Linked DNA regions of Homo sapiens. The protein of the gene in region 1 interacts with the protein of each later gene in a biochemical or structural test. Each region holds a gene or a part of one and is shown on either strand. Other genes may lie near its edges.

Region 1 (3,818 bases):
GGCAGCTGTCTCTTGGAGCCTTGCTTCTCGAAGTGTGCCCTGCAGACCGTCAACATCAGCATCACCTGGGAGCTTGTTGGAAATGCAGAATCTTGGTCCAAGATGGATCAGCATTTTTATCCAGGATTCTGCATTTCTAACAAGCTCTGATGCCAGTGCTGTCGGTCCATGGACTGCACTGACTAGCATGGTGTTACAGTACTTTCCTCAAGCTGGTTCTTTTGCTGTCCCACCATCAAAGGAGTGGAAGATTGCGGTTGTGTTTTCTGTGCCTTCAGATACACAGCCTAATGTAGATATGACAGATGTGCCTTTTTATAATATAACCTGGTGCAGACTGCAGTTTAATCCATCTGTCAGCATTCAAAGCATCTGGGATAGAATGTGTAAAGGCTGACTGATGATAATAAGATAGCCAAGAAGTTAGGCCGGGCGCAGTGGCTCATGCCTGTAATCCCAGCACTTTGGGAGGCCAAGGCGGGTGGGTCACGAGGTCAGGAGTTCAAGACCAGCCTGGCCAACATAGTGAAACCCCATCTCTACTAAAAATACAAAAATTAGCCAGGCATGGTGGCGCTCACCTGTAGTCCCAGCTACTTGGGAGGCTGAGGCAGGAGAATCACTTGAGCCCGGGAGGCGGAAGTTGTGGTGCTGAGATCATACCACTGCACTCCAGCCTGGGCAACAGAGTAAGACTCTGTCTCAAAAAAAAAAAAAAAATGGTGAGCCAACCTGAGGTAGTTGGAAAGAGAAGAGATACTTGCTAGATACTTCGCATGCCTAATGCAAATGCATTAACGGTTCATCATTTAGTAATTAGGAGGGGCTAGGACCTCTTTAAGCGGAGTTAGAAGGTTATTATAGCAGCCCAGATGGAAGTTAATGAGGCCTGAACTTAGGTAGGAGAAGCTGTATTTAGGATTGTTTTCAACAACGTTGTTTTCAATGTTGTCCTAAATAGGACATTAGGAATGTTGAAAACATTGGGAAGGTTGAAAATCAAACAAATCAACATTAGGAATGTTGAAAATCAAATTAGTAGTTGTGGCAGAAGTGGGAGATAATCTAGGTTGATGCTCAGGTTATTGGCTTTGGGAACTGTGTGGATAGGCTCACCTAGAGATTACAGGAAGAAGATCAATTTGAGATCTATGTTTCACTTTGGATAGATGGAGAGGGATATTGGTGTAACCTGTCTGGTAGGTATTGAGGTGCACAGTCCTGGAGCTCCAGAGGGGAATCTGGCTGGAGCTGCATAGACACTAGTGAAGCCAACTCAGCAATATATATGAAGCTATAGGTGTGGATCCAATCATTCAGAGAGAATGTTCCAGGTGAGAAGAGCCAAGCACCAAACATGGGGCCCTTTGAATGAAAGAAGAACCCTCTCTGGAAGCTTTTGAAGGGACATCAGAGAGGTAGTCACCATGAGATCCTAGAGAGTGCTTTAGGATTGAATTTTATTTTGCTTTTCAAAAGCTTAAAGGTGATACTCTTAACAAGTTTCATAAGGTTTTTCATTGTCATTGTCTTTGATGATGGTGAGATAGCTCTTTGTTTTTGTTATTGTTTGTTGGTTTCTAACTTACCAGTTTGTTCTGTGCATTTTTAAGGTCCTTAAAATTCTAGTCAGGGCAGTGATTGATGGGATGACTGATCGAAGTGGAGATGTTGCAACTGGCCTCAAAGGAAAGCTGCAGGAGTTATTTGGCAGAGTGACTTCAAGAGTGACAAATGATGGAGAAATCTGGAGGCTGTATGCCCACGTATATGGAAATGGGCAGAGTGAAAAGCCTGATGAAAATGAAAAGGCAAGTCCTTCATTCCTCCTGAGTCCTTGCCTTTCGTTTGAACATGTTGTAGTAGATCTACTTTTTTGATGGGTGGAGGAAGAGTTTAACAATCTGAAAGATAAGATTAGTATGCTTAAGTTCAGTTCTGATTCAGTCTTTAACCTACGTACTTTGAATTGTGGGCTGGTTAAAACTTGTAACATTCATCTTTTTATTTACCATGAAGTTTTCTTACATAGTTGTTCCCTGTTTCCTGCAAAAGGGCCTCTTGAAATGGCCACCCCTACTAAATCTGCAGCAGAGTTGGCTTTTGTTATTTACTCCATACCCCTTTCTGCAGGCACCTTGCTAAAGACTACAGTAGATGGGTACAAGGAGAGAAGGAGTATTTAGATCTGAGATGGGGATTAGGAAAAGAAAAGAGAAAAATGAACAAGATAAAGATCTTGGAAGAGAACTTTTAAGTCAAAACATAATACTTTTACAAAGGTTGCCCTGCCCTTTCTCACAAGTGCGATAGAACACCAGTTCCACTCAAGTTATGCCTTTAGCCTCTTATCTTAGAACTTAAAGGAGCCTGCAGAGTTTCCAAAGTTGGAATAATTGTTTTATGTTTCTTTTCAAAACACCCACAACAAATCAAATGTACTCCTTGCGTGGGTTTGGAATTAGCCACGGCACAGCTAATCTGTGGGATTCTTAGCCATTCTCTCCTCCCTCAATCCACACAGCTGGCTTCCACCGTGGCCTTGTCAGCCCAGAGAACGTGTATCACCTGCACACATGCACACCCTACTTTCATGTCCTTCCATTTCTCCTTGAATTATGGACTTTCTTGCATATATGGAATTAAGAGTACCCAGAATTCTCTGACCTGTGACTTCTCCCTCAAGGATTTGAAAGAGGGTGCATTAAACATCTGTGAGATTACATATATCTACCAGCAGTTTCATTGTTTTAACCAAGTTCATGCCTCATTCTCTAAACAGGTTTTTTAAACTGATGGCTACAAATGCTGAGAAAATCTGTATATTTACAGATTTCCAAACCTGGCCTTTATATCTTTCTGGTTACAGGGAAGTGTCTCAATCCAGGTACATCCATTTGATTTCTTGCCACGGCTTGTTGCCGTTGGGTGTGCATTTCCACCCCTTCTTTGGTGAGAGTAATAGACGCTGTGCTGTACAACACAGATGCTGCTTTTTCACATTGGAATTAGTTCCATATGACTTCCAGGAAACAGAGTTTGAAATGTGAATTCTACTTGTTATTCTGAATGTTGTTCTTTCTCCTTCCTCAGGCATTCCAGTGCCTCTCAAAGGCATACAAGTGTGACACCCAGTCCAATTGTTGGGAGAAAGATATTACATCATTTAAGGAAGTTGTTCAAAGAGCCTTAGGACTTGCACATGGTATTTGATGTAACATTTGATATCCATGGAATGTTTTGACTTATTTTCTACTGACAGAAAAGAGTGTTGGTCAAAAGTAAAGTTCCATTATAAATAGTATCAAATTATTTCATTATATTGACATTGTTGTATTTAATTCAGCAAACATTCATAGACCACCTACTATGTAATAGGCATTTTGAAATAAGAAGAAGAAACAGGATAGAGGCTTATATTCTGTTGGAGTAAGTAACAGAAATTGGAAACTTTTTTAGAGATGTGAAACATCTTTACAACTTTGTATAACCTTCATTCCACACTGAGTTTCACTGTATTGATTACATAGCATTAAGGAAATCTGTTAATTTTAACTTGACTCACACATAGATCTCTGGGGTACATAGCAGTATGCAGAGCTGTAGCATATACAAAAGAAATATAAAATAAAAGCCTTATCTTTGGGAAATGGTAGAGGATATTGTTTGAGGAAAGGTTTAACCTTACATATAAAATTATATGCCTGTTGGGTAAATATAGTCCAAATAAGCATTGCTTTTAGTTATTAATTTTTAAAAATGCCAGTTAAATTTGGTAATGCATTTTTATATTTATATTTGAATATGGGTGTGTGATG
Region 2 (3,818 bases), on another chromosome or scaffold:
GTATATCTTCTTATTTCAATTAGAGAGTACCTGAAAAGTTCATAACTTGCATGTTTAATTAATTCTTTAAAACTCAAATTCACAATATATGGTCTGATAAGGGTTTTTTCCTCTCTTGTCTAGTATTGGTTTGTATGTAAATACTAACACATTTATAAAAATCACATTTAGTAGCCTGGGCGCAATGGCTCACACCTGTAATCCCAGCACTTTGGGAGGCTGAGGCGGGCGGATCACAAGGTCAAGAGATCGAGACCATCCTGGCCAACATGGAGAAACACCGTCTCTACTAAAAATACAAAAAACAACTGGGCATGGTGACGTGTGCCTGTAGTCTCAGCTACTCGGGAGACTGAGGCAGGAGAATCACTTGAACCTGGGAGACGGAGGTGGCAGTGAGCCAAGATTGTGCCACTGCCCTTCAGCCTGGTGACAGAGCGAGACTGTCTCAAAAAAACAAAAAAAAAGAATACATTTACAAAAAAAGCAAAATGTATGTTGTTGGTTGCGGATTTTTTTAGTTTATTTCTCTGTCCAGACTGTAAGTGGGTGGAGGGGAGTGGTCAGAACCTCCCACCCCAGCTATTGGCTACTGCTGTATGCCCCACTCCCCGCCAGAGCCAGGCACACAGCATGCATTCAAAACTTTATCAGGTGGATGGACGAACAAGCTCCCCTAAAAACTCCACGATAGCGATGAATGGCAAATAACAGGGAAGTTTTAATAAGAGTTTTTATAAGTTAATCTTTATCAAGTTTAACCATATATTCACAACATAATAATTAAGTGCAATTATGCACAAACTGCTGTATTCATTATCTCTCTTAGGGCAAGAGCGCTCCCCAAACATTATACCTTCCACATCTACATCCATTCAGAGTAAGAAAATTGGTGCTCATAAGATCAGATAAGAATGACAAAAAAGCTGTTTTCTTAAAAGTTTCAGATCCCACATGCCTTCACCCTCCAGGTCAGTGTTTTCCTTAGCACGGTCTAGAGTCCATGGGTATCAGAATTATTTGAGGATGCTTTAAAAATGAAGATTCTGAGCCTCACTTTCAATCTGCTGTGTGAGGGCTTCCAAGAATGGTGACCAGAAAACTCAGCATCTTTAACAAGCACCTGAAAAACTGAGACCATTTTCCCACGTCTTAATTCCACGCTCCTGCTGCAGGGCCTCCCACTGGTTTACGGGGATGGTGGAGTGACTCTCCTATCCCCAGGGGCCTGGCAGAGGTAGCCACACCCTCCTGTGAGCAGTCCACAGGCCTCCCCTATCCTCCAGGGGACACAGCAGGGCCTGGGCCCAGCCAGGACATCCAGGAGTCCAAGCGAAAGGTGTCCTACATGGACCCTGCCTCAGCAGTGGCCTTGCTCTCCTCCTGACCCTTCCCTGCACTCCCCACCCTGCTCTTGGGAGATGCAGTCTGCCCCCACCCTCTCCCCTCCCAGGTGTCCTTGGCCTCACAGCCCCCACACTGTCTGCCCACGGAACAAGGCAAGGCCTCCCGCTTCTCACTTTTGCATCTTATTCTTAAAACAAACAACGGGGAGAGAAAATCCTTCAACTATAGGGGGGAAAAAGTGGGAGATTGTGAACCAACCTCACCCAAAGAAAGCTCTCCCATCACACCTGGGTCTCCAGCCCTGGCTTCTGTGCTCTCTGGGGCGCCCCGCACCACTGGGCTGACTCAGGCACCGTGGCCACGTGATGTGGAGAAGTCAAGTGCCTGCATCCAGTCCAAGTCTTAACTTCTGCCACGCGCTCACCCTGAAACCCGGAAGGTTACCCCTTCTCTTGAGCCTCATTTCCCCAAAGAGGAGTCATAAGACCTCTTCCCTTGAAGGTTATGAGGATGAAAGGTAATAGACATGTGTAACTGGCAAGGCTGGCACGTGGGTAAGGTCCAGCTTGCGGGAACGAGTGTTGTTATAAAGAAGGCCACTGTCACCCCTGTAGCATACCACTGCTTCCTACAGGATCCAATATGAAAGCCCCTTCCTGCCCGCTCCTCCTCCTAAAACTGGTCCATTGGTTGAGCCTAACCACTGTGCTTCCCAGGAAGAAGGTGAGGGGAAGGAACTGAAACTTCTGCTGTGAATGTGGTGCCCAGCCGCCGGCTTTCTCTCCGTGGCCCTCTTCAGGGCCTCCCGAGCCCACCTCACTCGCATTCTGCTTGTGTTGTCTTAGAGTACAGAGATGCATTTTTCAGACAATGAGAAACGTCAGGAGTTTGGCTGCCTGGTTGGGGTGAATCTTCCAGCACCCACACAGCTGGCGCAGTCTGCTGGCCCTGAGTCCTTTCCAGGGACTCCACTGTCCAGCCTTCTGGCAACCCCATGCTGCCCTGGCCTCAGGCTTTGCCCGCTCTTCTCTGGCCAGCTTTCTCTCCCTCCCTGCCAACCTAAGCTTTCTTCAGACCCAGGATCTCCTTCTCCTGCCAGCTCCGTCTTCTGTGAGGCAGGATGGCAAAAACGAGGGGACCATGGTTCAAATCCTGCCAGGGCCTCCAACCTTGCTGAGCCTCTGACTCCCCTTCTATAAAATAAAGGGTAACATCATAGCTTACGGAGTCATCCTGAGGTTCCAGGACATGTAGCGACCCTTAGTGCTCAATAAATGCTGCTGTCTTTCTTCCCATGTGGCTTCAAACCAGAAGTCCTCCCATGGCAGCAGGGGTGTGCAGCAGGTTCTTTGGCGTTGGGGTGGGTAGAGCCCATTCCCGAGGTGTCACATTCCCACCATGGCCATCTCAAACTCCCTCCCCACGTGATGTCAGGGACCGTGGGTGGAGTTGGGGAGGGACAGGCACTGCAGCGGTGACCTGGGTGAGCTGGGATTGACACGGCACTGCCGAGCAGCCACCTGGCCTGCCATGGTGTTCCACATTTTTCCGAAGACGGTCTGACAGCATCTCATCCTCATGCTCTTCTGCACCGTGATTGTGCCATCCTCCTTCAGGCAGTGGGCGGCATCTGTGGCTCCATCTCTTGAATCTGGGCAGGCCCCATGATCACTTTGACCAATGGCACAAGTGATTTTGCCAGCCCTGCTGTGGCTTTTCATGGACTGGGGGCCTCCAGGTCCCACCTCCTGAAGCCCTCAGGTAAGATGCAAGAAGTACGACGATGCCAAACCACTGTGCCACGTGGAGAAACCCAGGAAGAAGAGATGTCCTTGGAGAACAAGGCCAAGGAGCCTCGAGCAAGGAAGGCACCTTAGAAGGGGACCCTCCAGCGCAGCCGAGGCCACAGAGGTCAGAGACTGTCCATTCAGCAACTGATCAATGAGGGAACATAACAGGGCCTGCCAAACTTCCATCAAGGGCAGATCCTAAATATTTTAGGCTTTGCCAGCCTTGCAGTCTGTCCCAACTACTCAGCTCTGCTAATGTATCATGAAAGCAGCCACAGATGACATGTACATGATGGGTGTGGCTGTGTTCCAATAAAACTTTAGTTAAAAAATAGGTGGCAACCTGGGTTTGGCCTATAGGCCATAACTTGCTGATCCCTGATATAAAGACTAGGTCATCACAGCCCAACCTGGGGCAACTCTCAAGGGTCATTCTGGCCCCAGAACTCCCTGTTGGCCAACTGGGGCTGCCACTAAACCCATTCCTGCCCCCTTCTCCTCTTCTCCAAATCTTGATCCTAAGTATAGTTCTTAATAAACACCATGCACACTCTTCTCCATCTCAGAGTCTGCTTCCCAGGGAACCCAAGCTACACCCCACTGGGTCTGGGATAGTTTTTTACATAGCCATAGAAGGCTAGAACATGCACCATCTTGAACTGGGCTTGTTTACTAGGCTCA

Evidence for each region.
Region 2: the proteins of TTC27 (region 1) and DAPK1 form a complex in vitro, tested with the Homo sapiens proteins (one large-scale study listed by BioGRID and IntAct).

The regions. Positions count from the first base shown.
Region 1 is NC_000002.12:32,809,411-32,813,228, forward strand, and holds part of TTC27 (tetratricopeptide repeat protein 27), read left to right. Parts: intron 1-1,613; coding exon 1,614-1,811; intron 1,812-3,093; coding exon 3,094-3,205; intron 3,206-3,818.
Region 2 is NC_000009.12:87,633,747-87,637,564, reverse strand, and holds part of DAPK1 (death-associated protein kinase 1), read right to left. Parts: intron 1-3,818. UniProt on the Homo sapiens protein: Calcium/calmodulin-dependent serine/threonine kinase involved in multiple cellular signaling pathways that trigger cell survival, apoptosis, and autophagy.